2 separate regions of the Homo sapiens genome follow, and region 2 is linked to region 1. Evidence: fine-mapped expression QTL. Tissue or cell type: whole blood. Region 1 holds a variant in brackets; the other region holds the start of a gene. All regions are shown on one strand. Distances are between the middles of the regions.

Region 1 (8,187 bases):
CCCTCCAGTTGTCCACTTAACCTCATTCTTCCTGGATGGGAAACAAGAACCTGGGACCTGAATGGCAGGACTCAAAGAGCTGTAACACAAACGGGGCTGAAACACGTCGCCCCCACTCACCATGTTGTGGGAAACGAGAAGGAGGGAAGAGCTGTGGCTCTTCCAAGAGCCCAGACGTAGTTGCTCCTGAGCCAGGGATGTGACACCCTCTGTGGGGCTCTGCGGTTCCCAGTTTCTCCAGGTTTCTGGGCGCCTCTGTGTTTCCCTCATCCAGACGCAGTTGCTCAGAGCAGAAGCTGCGTGCGGTACATCTGGTCCATCTGCAGCCTCACACAGAGCCAGCACCTGTACCAGTGCCTGGAGCTAACCACCCTGCCATAGTAGCCAGTCAGCCAGCATGCCTGCTGTGCGTGGTGACCAGACCCTGCGCTTGGTCACCCACACAACCTCGCCGCTCCACACCTGGCTAACCCTTGGCAGGTGTGGGATCCAGGTTGGTAGCTCAAGCTGAGCACAGCCTATCGGGCCTAGTGGGCAGAACGAGCCCAGCGGGCGCAAACAATACTCAGGGAGAAGGTGCCGCCAGCCACAATGGTTTCTGGGTGGCAAAGCAACACCCCAAGGATCCTGTGACATTAGGACTTTGACTTAGTAGAAGAAATTCAGCATAATTGAGTCTATAAATTTAAAACGTAACCCGAATATGACTGGAACCTTTAAAAATGTTAACATGTCAATTATGGTACAGCTTTGTACTAGAAAAAATGACACAGAAGCCAATCCAGTTGTGTCTGGCAAGTTAATTATATCATCACCATTTAAGAGTGATTATCTAGTGTTAAACGTCATATACTTTTCACATGTATTGCATTTTTGTTGGCTTTACAGATAGAAATTAGTTGTAAATTTAAATGGAAAGAAAGAAAGTCTTTAAGCAAGGATGACGGTTCTTATGACATATTTGACCTAGAAATGCTCTTATTGTAAAAAACAAAAATGATTTTTAAGGTAATATAATGCAAATTACCGTCATAAAGGCTTGCTCCTTCATATTATAATGAGAATAACAAAATTGTATATAATTGGTTAATAAGCATCACTATTCCCCCTTAAAAAAATAAGGGAGAGAAATAGAGCATGTCATCTTTTATTTCCTTTAAATATGAGTGTAATGATATTGAGCTTACTCCTTAACTCAGGGATATTTTCTAATTTAAGGTAGATTTAATCTAGCCTATTGTTGTCTTGATTGATTTAACAATGTAATTTAACTATTTATGAACAGTTGTTAGATTTCTTATATTAGAAATATTAGATATTTTTTCTAAGATATTTGTTTTTTAAGAAACAGCTAAAACCTAGGGCCTACAGGTTTTCAAATGTAATTTTAAATGTAATATTAATTCCCATAATCTCCATATTGCCCATAGTCTTTACAGATGTGCTATTACAAATAGCTTACTCCTCAGATATGAGCCATATGGGCTCTGTAAACTGATTTGCACTTATTCTGAATAGGAATTATACAGATTGTAGATGAATTATTAAGTAAATTTATATTACCAAATAAATCTAAGAATAAAATATTAAGCTGTATTAAATGAGAAAGGAATCTGCAAATGAAGACCTACCTGCGTTAATAAGTTTAGTGGTTACCTTCTTGGTTTCAATCAAAAGAAATTAGTTTTTTGTTGTTGTGTTTTTTAAAGGGGTGGGGGGGGGCGTCTTTAAAACTGCTTACGGAAGTATCTAAGACAAAAACAAGGAAATATAATGTTATAAACTCAGCCAGTCCAAACCACTTGAACTGCTATGACAGCTCATAAAACTGAGAGTAGTTTTTAACTGGGCTCTGTTCTACATTGCCAAAGTGAATTTTCCTTGCAGGAAGTAGCCAGAGGGTTTATTTAGTTTCCAGTCCATGGCTTTGATCTTTCTGTACTGTCACATCTTGGGTTACATAGCCCTTTTTCACTGCAGTAAATCTGCAGCAGTTAATGAGAATAAAATTTCCTCCTTACTGATCACATTCTGTTGAATGCCAAACCACAGCCAACTGCATATTTGCAGAATTTCAGCTACAATGTATGAAAACAGCACAATCAGTTTAATCTTGTTTTCTTTGCAATTCATTTTATTGGGCTTTCTTCCTTTTCAAGTGACCTACTTTATCCAGTCAAGTGGTTGCAGGCCAAACTTGGAAGAAAGATTTAAAATGTGAATAAACTAAGAGGAGAAGGTGTGCAGGAGGTGGGCCAGGGGAGGGCAAGTGGAAGTCCGTCTGCACTGCCGTGAAGATTCCAAGACTCCATAAATTGAGTTTATTTTAATCCTTTTTAAAGACCAAGCCTTTTTTTCTTTTTTCTCCTCAAATAAAATAAAATGGTTTGTTATTTCTTTAGTTATTTTGTATGTTTAGTTTCAACATAAGTTTGTACTTACTGAGTTTATTTAATGAGTCATAACATTATTTTTCAGTTTTCATTATAGAGAAGACACCACAGTACTTAAGGAAATTTAAGGGAATTTCAAGGATTTCAAAAAATTGAAGTTTCACTTTATAAGAGCTCTTCTTAGAGTAAAAATAACATTGTTGTTAACACACACTATACCATCTTATCAAATGGGTCCTTACAAACATAAAGGAAATACTATGAATATGTTGAATAAATCAATAGAATTTCAAAATCACATTTAAGCAAGCTGAATTTTATACATTAATATGTGCATCCTCATAGTAAAGTACATAAAGAATCATATTTATTTTCTTTTTTGTTACAATGAAACCTCTCAATTGAGGCATTAATTACCTGATTCAGTTAATACAGGTTAAATATATTTTTTACTTACACCTCTTATCTTTTCTACTGCTTTGTTTTTGTGGTTGGCAACTGGAAGTTAGCAACTTCTTTGTCAAGAAATTCACCCTCAGGGGGCCATCTTGGGTGATAGTCATTGATAAATATATTTTATTGTATATTTATATTAGGTCAAATTTATATATGGAAATATGAAATTTTATAAAATAAATCAAAAAAGGAAATCAGCTTATATTTTCCCAGAAGATTGAAGTCACAGTTACTGTTTAGCCATCTAATTTCACAGAAAAAATTATTCTCATCCTCATAAAAATCAAAATGTTGAGATAAAGAAAAAATATGTAATATTTATTGATTTAGACAACTACCATAAAAGCAATAACCAAAAGTGTATTGAGAACTCAGAAGACTGTTTCTGAATTGGGGACAGTAAAGTCAGATCTCCTGATAAAAAGAGGATCCACTTTTGGGGAAATGCCTGTTGTTAGTTACCCCAATACAAGAGGAGGGTAAGAGGAGTGGTTTGAACATTTTAAAGGAAAGAGGTGCAGCACTCACAGGGCCTTTTCAGAAGGTATTAGGTATAATGTTAGAATGTTGAACTTTCAAAATGTAGCTTATACTCTTAGAATTGTTTTCAAATAGACCTATGTCTACTTAAATTGTAACATAATAGTTTGCATGTGAAAAAAAGATGAAGATGAAAACAGAATTTTAGACTTTATCTGAGGGCCTTTTCTATAGTTTGCTTCTTCGTTTCTTTGCAACTTTAAATCTGCCCAAAATTCTAACCTTGCAAGTCCACAGAAAGTTTCTTCATGAAGTAAACATTGTTTTCTTCAGTTTTTGTTGTCTTTAAACACACACACACACACACACACACACACACACACACACACACATAATTCTTAAACAAGTGCAACTGCTCAAAAGAATTTGTTTTGGGGACATGAACAGTCCAGTAGAGTTTTAAATGAAACTGCTGGAAAGGAGTAGAAACAATGCTGACTTCAGTGACATACACAATCTTTATTCTAATTGTATTATTTTAAATGGTATTCTCT[A/G]AATCAGGGGTCCCCAACTCCCAGGCCAGTACCTGTCCATGGCCTGTTGGGAACTTGGCCACACAGCAGGAGGTGAGTAGCAGGCCAGCAAACCTTACTGCCTAAGCTCCACCTCCTGTTGCATGAGCAGCGGCATTAGATTCTTATAGGCGCACAAACCCTATTGTGAACTCTGCATGCTAGGGATCTATGTTGTGTGCTCCTTATGAGGATCTAACTAATGCTTGATGATCTGAGGTGGAACAGTTTCATCCCAAAATCGTCTCTCCTCCCCCATGTATGGAAAAATTCTTCCACACAACCAGTACCTGGTGCCAAAAAGGTTCGGGGCTGCTGCTCTAAATGGTTTCAGATCTATGTACAATATGAGATAGATGGACCAATAATGATGATGGCAATTATTGAAATATATTTAGTGAGTTCCAGGCAGTTTATGAATTGCTATTTATTACATCCCTTATCTAATTTACTCTTCACAACAGCTGAAGAAGGGAGACACTATTATTAAGAAAACTGAAGCATGTAGGTTTAAGCAACTTACCCCAGGTTATCTTGCCACCACTCAATCAATAAACTATTCTTACCTTTGCCCACCTTTCTTCTATTACAATGAAAGAAGTTTTTTCAAAATCCAATAAACCCATTTTTACTCTAGACCCCATTCTTGTCTTTTCAAGGACTTCTTTTATGTTGTCACTCTTTTCCCCTTTACTGGATCATTCCTGTCAACATATAAACATAAATCAGAATCTGCAAAGTTAAACTCTTTGGCCCCACATCATATTCCAACTGCTTCCTGTTTCTCAATTCCCTTTATCCAAAACTTCTCAAAAGACTTGCATGTGCTCTTCAACTTCCCCACTCTTGTCAAAATCACCAATAGTCTTCATATTGCCAAATCTAATGGACCATTCTCATCTTTACCTCTCAGCTGGTTTTGACACAGTTGACCAGGCCCTGCTTTTTGAAACTCCCTTCTTTCAGCTCTCAAGATACCCCATTTTTCTGATTTTCCTCCTAAGCCCTTTGTCATTTCTTCCCAATGTTCTTTGCTGGCCATTCCTTCTCTTTTCCACATTTAAATGCTGGTTACTTCAGGGCTATATCCCTGTTCTCTATCCATACCCTGTTTTGGGGGACCCTCTTTTCTAACTGCACCCACCACACCTAGGATTACATCCAGATCCATGGCTTTAAGTACCATTTGTAAACCTATATTTTTAGCTTAGACTTGTCCTCTCAGCACCATCCTTATTCCTTATGCTATCAAATTGAATGTTTAATAAAATTATCAAACTTAACTTTTGATTTCTCACATATAAACAGGTTCCTCCCTTAATCTTCTCGTCTCAGTATGTGTCACCACCATCCCACCTAGTAGTTCAAGCTTTAAACTTTGGAATCTTCCTTATTATCTCCCTTTTCTTCACCATTACCCTCTCTCTCCACTGCAAACCATCTGCATGCCCTGTTGTTTTCATTTCATTTCTGGAATAGATCTGAAATTTGGCTATTTATTTCCATTTTCACTGTTAGTACCCTATTCCATGCCACCATCATCTGCCACCTGAACCACTCAATAGCCTAATTAATTTTCCTGTTTCTGCACTTCCCTTCTGCTTCATTTTTTCCACAGTAGCCATAATGATCTTTTTCAAGTATGTCATATCACGTCTCTCACGTGCCTTCAATGGCTTCCCATACTCCTGTAATAAAATACAAATTTCTTACCATGTTCTATAAAGTCCTTCATTATTTGACACTTATCTACATCTCCAGCCTCATCAAATATTCCAGTTATAATTGCTTGTTAATTCTACCCACTCTGGACTCCCTTCTCTTCCCCAGACATTCACCAAGTTCTTTCGCACTTTGTCACCTTTGTGCTTAACTGGAATAGTCTTTTGACTTTTTAAATAACTGGCTTCTTCTTACCTTTCAAGTCTCAGTTCAAATATTCCTTCTTCAGAGAATCTTTTCCTAAGAGAATTATCAAAGAAGCTGCTTCTCCCTCATCTAACCTAGTAATTTAATTTTTGTTCACTTGTTTATTCTCCCTCCTACCACAAGAATACAGTCTCTAGATGGGCAAGAACTTTGACTGTCTTTTTCAAAGTTCTATCTACTGGCACCACTAGGTTCTCAATAGACGTTTGTTTAATAGAAGTTTTAAAGGTCAGAGCCAGTATTCAGACATAGATGTCTTACTCCATTTCCCATGCTGTTTCATTTTCAATGTGAACTTTTTTATAATTTCTTAATTTTAATTTTTACTATTTCAGTATCCTTTCAAATGTACAATGCATACCATCTATTAAATATATAATCAAATAGATGTGTATTATATATCCTGCTTATAGTATCATATGCTTTGTATTATAAAATTGTTGATAGGAGCCTATGCTATATGGGAAAATTTTTTAATAACCTAGGTAAGATAAAAACAGACCTTAAGTAGCTATATTTTACATAGATGAAGATGCTTGCCTTCATAATTAAGATCCAGTTAAGGGATTCGTAGTGTACTTGTATTATACTACTACAAGTCTAATTAAATATACTGAGAAACACCCATCTAAGCACAGTCTCTATCATAGAAAAATTTTATTTTATTTTCAAAAGCAACTCTTATAATGTCCCAATATTACAAGTGTGTAAAATCATATTTCTAGTCCATCTACTTTAATCTAGCCTAAAGAAACATTATAGGTTCACCATAACAGAGGAAGAAATAATATGATTAGTATTCAATATCTCATTAATAATAGCAATAACCAACTGACTAGAATTGCAAAATAATTATTTTCTTGGAGTTATATTTTTCATGGAGAAAGATCAGTAGAAAACATGCTTGGAAGTCACATAATTTCAGTTATAGTCAATTTCATTGCTGATTTGTTGTAAATTTTGTGTTGCACCTGGAGGAATGGCTCCATGTTTAAACATCAGGGAGTATTTGTATTAAGAATTTTTACTGCTGTATCTTTAGAGGATGGTGTAACTTTAGAAGATGGTTATGACTTTAGAGGATCTTAAAGTTGGTTGTATCTTTGGAGGATCTTAAAGTTGTATCTTTAGACTTGTATCTTAAAGTTATATCTTTAGTTGGTTGTATTTTTAGAGTATCTTTAGAGGATAATCAGAATATTTTAAAAATCTGTATTAGTTTTCATAGTCCAATAGCTTAAGTTCTGTAGCAACAAATACTACTCCATACTTAAAATGAATAGAGTTTCCTTGTTCATGTTTCTTTCCTATTACCAGGTTATAACTAATGGTCTGTTAGTAGTCAATAAATGATAAAAATAGCATATATACTGTTGGGATTTTTATGTTGTTATTGCTGCTCTTTCCAAAAGATACTTATAATTTTACTTAAAGTTTCTGTGATGACAGGTGAAATTAACTTTATAAAGCACAAAATATAGGATAAAATATAGAATCATTTAATGTTTGCTTTTAACACTTAAAATTTCCTTTATTCATAACCTTTTTAGTTGACAAGCACTTGGATGAGGTCTAGGGATATGGAGGTCGGTAAGAAATAATCTCATTCTCTTTAAGAGGCTTATATAGTTCAGGGTTAAAAATATAATTTTTTGAGATGAGTTAAAGCATTCTCTTTATTATTCTTTCAGCTTTCTGTTTTGAAAATATTTAAGGGTAATAGTATTATCAGGCTTATAAAAGTAATACTACATTGTCAGTATCTGGACATCAATGGTCTTTTACCTGTTTCTGCCCACTTTTATGTTACTCCAATATGTTGAGTAATATATATATATATAATATATATTCCTCTAAAAATTAAGGAGAACTCAGATGTTTAAGATGTTTATTCTAGTGTAAATAGAATAAATAATATTTGTCTATTGGAAATATTTCCAGCAGAATAAACATCTTAAACATTTCTGAATTCTCCTTAATTTTAAGAGGAAACAGAATTAATGATATTTAGAAAAGAATGCCACATTATCTTAAATAATACTCCCCCTCATTTTTTGTAAAGAGCATGCTATGTGGAGTGTGTCATTCATTGACTTACTTCTAGTACAAAAACACAGACCTTTAGTATCTTCTTATACACACACACAAAATTTAGAGAATGTGAATTTTCTTAGAAAAAAAGTAAGTAGGTTCAGATTTTATAGCACTCTAAGCTAAGCAGTACAATATTTGACAAAGAACCACATTATTTTTGAAATACAACTTTTTAAATTATATATGCTATTTCATAAAACATCGTACTTTGATGGTCTGACAATTCACTAGTGTTTAATTACTTCTTTAAAACAATAAGTAGT
Region 2 (8,187 bases), 46 kb after region 1:
CCTTAAACAGTATGACAAGAAAAAATTATTTCTATTAAGAAAACAAACTATTTGTTTCTAACTGTCCCACCAGCCACATTCCAAGGACAGCGGATTCAGGTTGTTGGAGATTCTTTTCTTTCCTGGCCTTAGACATATTTAAAATGAGGACTGAGGAATCAGTGAGGGAATACAAGATTTCTATGCATAAGAAAGGCAGAAGGAGCTCAGAGAGCAGCTCCAGGGAACTGAGAACTGGAACCAGAGCTATAGAGGGCTCTGTGGGGTAAGGGCTGGGAGGCAGAGAGATGTAGGGAGGGTGCCTGGGACATGCAGTGTGCTCTCAGTAAATTCATTTGTGTGTTTAATATTTACTGAGTACCTAGTATGTTCTAGGCACTGTGTTATGTGCTAGAAATATGGCAGGAAAGAAAGAAATGAAGGAAGGAAGCCCTGTTTTCAGGGAGCTGATGTTCTAGCTGTGGGACAGAGATGCTGAACAAATATGTGCATTGGTGTTAAGCAAAATAAGGCAAAGTCAAAAGACAGGAAGAGGCAGGTAAGGTGCTGTTTTAGACAGTGTTTTCAGGGGAGCTGTCTCTGATAAATTGCATTCAAGTAGAATTTTCAAAATATAATTATAACTCTCATGCAAATATAAAATGAACACATTAGTTAATGAGGAAACTAAAAAGACATTAAGACTGTTCAAAGAGCATTTGTGTAGCTACATACTTACAAGCAATTTTATAAAGAAATACAGTAAGATTACTAGATTAGATTTTAAAATGAGAAATGCTCTCTAGTGCAATAAGAATAAACTTTGGGGTTAACTTTTCCACTGGACAGAAAGATTTGCATCTTTGTTGGACAAAAATATACAAGTTAGCCTGTGATTTCAATGCCCCAAATCTTTAAGAGTCTGAACAGGTGACATTTGTTCAGAGACCTGAGTGACATCAAGAGCAAATAGGTGAGTAGATGAAGAGTGAAGAGGGGAAGGACTGAGTGTCAAACTCCCTCCCATCTCTCTCCTACTCCATTCACTGCAAAATATTCCCTTCTCATTGATATTTGGAGGAGTGGGTTTACCTTGGGGAAATGAAAGGAAATACAGAGTCCTCTAGGCTGATGAATGATTATAGAGGATACCCTGGAGCTCAGCACATCTGGACATAAGATTAGGGAGCAAGGAACAGGGTGGGAAGGCCAGCAAAGACTCAGAGGTGAGGACACTGGGAAGAGGGTGGGCCAGCAAGTAGCTGTGTTGACTGCAGAAGATTTCACGTACTGGTTGAAGGGACTCATCTCTACTCCTCCTGTAAAAGGAGGAAAAACATAGTTATGAACTCTCGAGGGATAGTGTGAAAGGCAAGAGAATCCTTCTGTCTTTCAAATCGACATCCTCAGCATGTTCTCCCGCTGTCTCCTGGTGCTTGGGTGGCTGCTGCTGTTACACCCACAGCCATTTCCTTTAATAGGGAGGAAAAACCTTTCCTAATCCACTGTCTATCTTCCTCCCAACTTCTGCTATGTCTCACCGGCCAGAACTTGTGACCACCCTAGCGGGAAAGTAGGCTCAGAAAGTGATCTTTTTGATTTCTTAACTTCTTTATCGAAGGTGAACAAGGGAGAAGGGGGTGAGGAGTGGGAATGGATGTTGGAGCTAGTAAACCTAGGGTCTATGTGTTGTATTTCTTTTCTAATTCGGTCTCGAGGTCTCTCTCTGGGAGTGGTTATAAACGTTAGCTCTTCCGTGATGGGGCTTGGATATTTACAGTGTGCCTTCCATGGAATACTTCTTTATCCTGGCAGACGGCCTAAATCCTAGGTGTCTGACCCATGACAGGAGGTCCCTCTCACAGGAAGCTTGTTTATATTAGCAGGCACATTTGTGGCTCTTGTCTGCCCCGTGTCTGGTTTATTCCAACCAAGACAGCCACTCTCTAGGAGAGCCCTAACCAGGAAACAAGTCAGGTGTGGGTGTATAGGTCAGGTGAGACACAGAGGAGGTGAACAAAACATGTGAAATAATAGAAGCAGTTTCATTACTTACAGATCCATAATAAGAGGACAGCATGCCTCACAGGGCCAATGAGAAGGGGGACACACATGCTCAACCAGTGGGAGGGGGACGAGACAGAGAGAGGGACTTGCGGGCCAAAGCCTTCACTGTGGTCCTGGGTCCAACATCTTAGTCCCACTGTGACTAAGAGGTGGTCACTGAGGCATATCTGCAAAGTATATGTGGGGTATAGGGGTCAAGGGGATGAAGCAAGCAGCTTGTACCTGATGGTTCGATAGGGAGGTGGTCACCAGAGGCGGTCATACAAGGCAGATGTCTGGACTGACCACATAGAGGAAGTGGGAGGAGGCACAGAACTAGAGACTGTCCAGGGTGACTAAGCCCTGCTTCTAGTTTGAGAAGGTTAAACCTGTCCTCAGAATGGATAGTGAGGCCTTTGATATGTTCTCCCACCTCTTCATCAAGCATATTGACAAATCCTTTTTCACCAACTTGTCTTGCTATAACCGCCCAGTAGGTTCACCTTGCCGTCTGCCTAGATAGAGCCAATTTATCAAGACGGGGAATTGCAATAGACAAAGAATTCATGCAGAGCTGGCTGTGTGGGGGGCCAGAGTTTTATTATTACTCAAATCAGTCTCCTCCAGCAGTCGAGTTTTTAAAGACAATTTGGTGGGTGGGGAGGGGCAGTAAGTCAGGGAGTGCTGATTGGTTGGGTCGGAGATGAAACTATGGGGCATCACTGTCTTCTTGAACTGAGTCAGTTCTGGGTGGGGGTCACAAGATCAGATGGGCCAGTTTATCATCTGGGTGTTGCCAGCTGATCCATCAAGTGCAGGGTCTGCAAAACATCTGAAGCACTGATCTCAGGAGCAGTTTAGGGAGGGTCAGAATCTTGTGGCCTCCAGCTGCATGACTCCCAAACCATAATTTCTAATCTTGTGGCTAATGTTGGTAGTCTAGACCCCAGGCAAGAAGGAGGTTGGTTTTGGGAAAGGGCTTTTATTGTTTTTGTTTTAAACTGTAAATTATAAACTAATTTCCTTCCAAAGTTAGTTCAGCCTATGCCCAGGAATGAACAAGGATAGCATGGAGGTTAAGGACAAGATGGAGTTGGTTAAATTGGATCTCTTTAACTGCCTTAGTCATAATTTTGCAAAGGCAGTTTCATTGCTACCTGAATGATTTTCCTAACTTATCCATCAATCTCCTGGAAGCCTTTCTCCTTAACCAATGTCTTCAACTCTGCCAGACATGTGGCAGCTTCTTCATCAGCAGATGTGGCCTCTCCAGTTATTTTTATGTTTTTCAGTCCAAACCTATTCCTGAATCTGTGTAGCCATCCCTTACTTGCAGTAAATAGCTTGGTGTGCCTAATTTCAGGGGATCCCTTTCTTAAGTCTTCCTATAGGCTCAACACTTTCTGGCAAAACTTACTGCGGTCAGCTGAAATACGTTTTCTGTTCATGTCTCCCACCCACAAATGTAATGCCTTTTCCGTCTTTTGCTGTTGCACCTCAAACTACAAAAGTTACAGCCACAGTGCATGATAGGTGCTTAGTTAACTAGCACGAATCTTTTTCCTTCTTCACAATTTCATGGATAATTTGTTCTTATCATAGATTTTGGCAACCTCAGCATATGACTCTTTTTCTTTCCTTATTAAGTCCAGAGCTTTCACCTTTTCATTTAAAGGAAGCACTTTACAGCTTCTCCTCGGCATATCCAAATTGTCAGCACAATTCCTGTGCTTTGCGGCCATTATTAAGTAAAATAAGGGTTACCTGAACATAAGCAGGTGGTATCTCTCATTATCTCTGCTATACTACGGGTGCATCTGTTAACCAAAGCAGCTACTGAGTGGGTAATGAGTGGATACTGTACACAGCGCGGCTACCTGCGACAGATGATTCGCGTCAAGGGTGGGACAGAGTGGATGGCCCGAGATTTAATCGGGCTACTCAGAATACAGGCGGTTTGAAACTTAAGAATTGTTTATTTCTGGAGTTTTCCATTTAACATTTCTGAACCAAGGTTTGACCACAGGTAACTGACACTGCAGAAAGCATGGAGGGGGGCAAAACTACTGCATTAATATTAAAATTTTCAAATATTACTTTTTGCTAAATGAAATGTGATTCAGGACCTTCCCTCTCAAAGATCAAGCGAGATCACCACGACCTCCGCCAGCAGCGGCTCTGCACGACTCCACCCTCGCAGCCCAGCCAATCAAAGCTACAGGTTGAGTGACGTCACTCTCCTGAAAGTCCTCGCTAATTCCCGTACTCCTTTTCTCCGCCCTGCACCTCTACTGTTTGCTACAAGTGGCCAGCAGCCATTTTGGATTTGGGCGGAAATGAAATTAAAACTGTGCTGTTAAAAGCCTAAAAATTCAAGTCAAGACAAACTTAAGCATTCGACCAACACATCTAGAAAGGGGGCATCTTCGTGGACTAACTAGACCACTGGGGCAGTGAGTGAAACTCGGTATCGTCGCGGCGCCCACACTTAAGATGGCACCGGCCTGAGACTCAGCTGTGCGGCCTCTCTACCTCGGTTCCTGGTTAGTTGGCCTCATTGGTGGCGTCGGAGGGAGGAAGGTGGGCCTTCTGTCCCGTTTCCGGACCCGTCTCTATGGTGTAGGAGAAACCCGGCCCCCAGAAGATTGTGGGTGTAGTGGCCACAGCCTTACAGGCAGGCAGGGGTGGTTGGTGTCAACAGGGGGGCCAACAGGGTACCAGAGCCAAGACCCTCGGCCTCCTCCCCCGCCGCCTTCCTGCAGGTAACAGGGAGCCCTGCGCTGCGCCCCCAGTCCTTGCAGGACTGCGCCGTGGGGGAAGGGGCCGGGCGGGGAGGAGGCGGCGGGCGCGCGCCCCGCTCGCGGGTCTGCGCTCTGGGGCCCGCGCGGGAGCGAGCTCGGCGCGGCGCCGGCGGCCGGTTGAGCTGTGCTCTCAGCTTCGGAGCAGCCTCCCCTTGCTGATTGTGGGGCGCCCTGTAATCTGCGCTTCGCGGGCGGCCCCCGACGGGTGAGGCGCCCGCGGCCAGAGCTCTCCAAGGCGGCCGCGGAGTCGGTCCTCGCAGGGAGGTGTGGAAGGTGAGGGGCCAGCGAAGCGAGAGCGGCGCCTCGGCCCTTCAGTGACCCCGCGGGGTCGCGGCAAGCAGGGCGAGGGTGCTCGGCTGGGCGGGTCACTGTCCCGGGGCGGCAGTGCCCGAGCCCGGGGGGATCCTGGGGGCGCGCCCGCCCTCGGGAAGGCGGCCTCATTCTTGATCCAAGACCAGTGCCCGTCCCCCAAGGCCCAGCTGGCTCCTGTCTTGGCATAGTGCTTTCTGTTTAGAATAAAGATGAAACATTTCTCGGAAGAGCATATTCAGGAATCCATGTGAAATTCTCGGAGTCGGGTCTCGAATTTTGGGGGTCACTGTTAACTGCTGTTTTTAGGGACCCATGTTCTTATAAAATGTATCTTGAGCTGAAATCACAATTATTTTGGTCCATAAAGACTTAATTGTGTATTGCTTGTCAGCTAGCAATGCTGGACTGAGTTCCGCAGAGGGAATATATACCTGAAACACGAAAGCAAGGGCCGGAGTAACGTTACCGCTGGATACCAGAATATCAGCCAGTACAGTGCATCCTTAATACTCAGAGTGCAAGCCATTATCTTTGGAACTTTCAAGCTAAGGGAGCTAGGACCAAGGTAGTCTCGAGTAATTGCTGGGAAAAGAAAATATTTGGTAGAAACATTTCCATAGAGCACACGGGTTTCTTAGTTGAGTGTATGAGTTGCCCTTTGACCTAGACAAGGGTTTTCTTAATCTACAAGCGGTCCAGAAATTTTATGTGCTGCCCAAGTAGGCAAAAGAGTGGAGGGAGATTATTAAAGGGAAGACTGATGCATATTCAAGTCAGAGACTGTCAACTCAGCATTTTATTATAGAGTGGAGATGCTAAGTGCTACGAAATACCTATTACGGGATACTAGGATATCCTTTTCTACCTTCTTGTGACTTTTTAATTTCAAAGCTAATGAGCAAGATTTTGTGTTTTCCCCGTCCTCAAAACAACAGGAAAGCATTTTGGAAGGCCAAGTGTTTTTCTTACATTTCAATAAATCAATTTTAGCTGAATTATCATTTTTAAAGCACTGGCGGGCATGGTGGCACATGCCTGTAATCTCAGCAACTAGGGAGGCTGGGGAGGGCAGGTAGCTTGAGCCCAGGAATTCCAGGTTACAGTGAGATAGGATAGCGCCAATGCACTCTAGGCCAGCAGCAACAGAACAAGACCATATCTCTATTTAAAACAAAAAACAAACAAAAAAACTTCTTCATATAACAGTATTTGTGCTTCTTTAGATATATTAGTGTGAAGAATTACTGCTTCAAAACATTCTCAAATTGCAATAATCAGCACACCTTTTTAATTTTCCCCCAATAAAGTTTGCACTGGGAACATACAATATAATCTTACCACTGTCAGTATTACACTGATGGTATCAGTGGACTTCTGTCAAAGTTAACATGCTTTCAAAACAAGAAAATGGCATCCTTTCCAGTTCTCTCAAGAAATTGAGTCATCCCTTTTTAATTTTTAAGTGATTTTTTTAGTCTTAGACCTAAAATACAGTAAGAAAAATGAATTTTAACTACTTCCTAATGCTTTTATAACTTTGTTAATTATAGTGGAATTCATATGAAATCTAAGGTTAATAGCTATTGCAAGGCCAATGTTCCCACAAGGAAGTATTTTGCTATTTAGAAATAGCTAAGTAAATTAAATGTTCCTTTCTCTTGCCTCTGGTGACTGCCATTCATCAGCCAGAGCACTGACCCTGAATCCTGGTGGCAGTCTTATCTCCCATGAGGATTAATATTAACACTTAAATAAACAGCATGATTTCCTGCGAAGAAGATATTCATTAATATACAGTCCCTTATTCTCTGCTTTTCTCTTAATTGTGTGTTGATTTTGGAAAGCTGTGTTTTGTGGGTGAGAGAGAGACGGTCAGACTAGCTTCAGATACTTTCAAAGTAACACTTCTGTAACTCACTCTTCCAGTCTGACTGGCTTTTCAGGCAGGAGTTGGAGACCAAGTAGAGCTTTCTGCCTATGAAATGGCAATTAGTTTCAAAGAACATAGACCCATTCAAGTTACCTGAGGAAAAGGGGGCTGGTTGTAAGGGTGTCAATGGGATGTTAGGGTATCTGGGTGGAATTAGATTTGAGGCTGGGCTTCCGGTAGTCTTGAGATGGATAGTAGTAATGTGCCCCCTAAGTATGACTAAGCTACGGTCCCAGTGTTTGCTTTTTAAAATTTTACTACCAACTGACTTCCTCTGGAAAGTTTCTGACTTCATGTGGCTTTGGTTTGCCGTAGCTCCACCTCCACCTCATAGCATCCTTCTACCTTCGGCTATGCTTCTAATAGGCAAAAATTGTTCTTAGTTCAAATTCCTGGGGGAGACAATGATCTGGCCAGTTTATCTCTTCACTCAGGCCATGAAATTGATGGCTAATTTGTGAATTAACCGCCCTTTGGCCCAGGATAGGTACCTGCCAACATTAACTGTGCCCAAGAAGAGGTGGCAAGATCAAGTGCTAAGCATAATCCTCCCTACTCAGCAGGAGGTTGTGACAATCTGGCCAGCACTCTATCTCCAGAACAGAGGGATTAGCATTGTTGCTTTTACCCATGGTCCCACATAAACTTTTTATTTGTAGTCCCAGTAGAAAGGTGAATGTTACCATAGTTGCCATACTTGGCATTTCTTTTAGTACTGTTTTTTGCTTCTCTGTCATTTTTAAGAAAGATACATTGCCAGGTAGGTAGGAATTCAGTGAATTTGTTACAAAGCAGATTTAGTTCTTATTCTCAGCAACATTTTTAGATTTTGAAAATCTTCAATTTTAGATAGCTTTAGCCTTTATACATGTGTTTCTTATATAACGATGGTTGTGGATCGGTAGGCACTTTAAATTTTGTTCTAGGCATGTGTTTTGAGCAGCATTACATACCCAGTGTAGAAGGTGTTGTATGGAATTTCACCGAAGTGGGGAAAAATTCCAAGTAGAGGGTCAATGTGTAATGATTATTGAGTTTATATTTGTCCAAAGAATACAGATTTTAAACAAATTTTTAAAGGCCTACATAGAATTATTGGCCGTATTTGTAGCAGTTTGC

What was found. PIP is the estimated chance that this variant, and not a neighbour inherited with it, causes the effect.
Region 2: SCYL3 starts here. The variant in region 1 is fine-mapped to the expression of SCYL3 in whole blood (INTERVAL, PIP above 0.99).

Annotation. Positions count from the first base shown.
Region 1 is chr1:169,936,446-169,944,632 of GRCh38, reverse strand. All of the region lies in intron 19 of KIFAP3 (kinesin associated protein 3), which reads left to right. Among named protein-coding and RNA genes, the nearest start is that of SCYL3, 47 kb to the right of the region's middle. RefSeq lists an enhancer at 695-3,378. The variant A/G (reference allele first, on the strand shown) is at 3,884.
Region 2 is chr1:169,890,388-169,898,574 of GRCh38, reverse strand. It overlaps SCYL3 (SCY1 like pseudokinase 3), which reads left to right and starts at 4,679. Exons shown (of 13, transcript NM_020423.7): 1 at 4,679-4,787. RefSeq lists enhancers at 4,252-4,661, 4,336-4,923, 4,924-5,511 and silencers at 4,862-4,941, 5,182-5,241.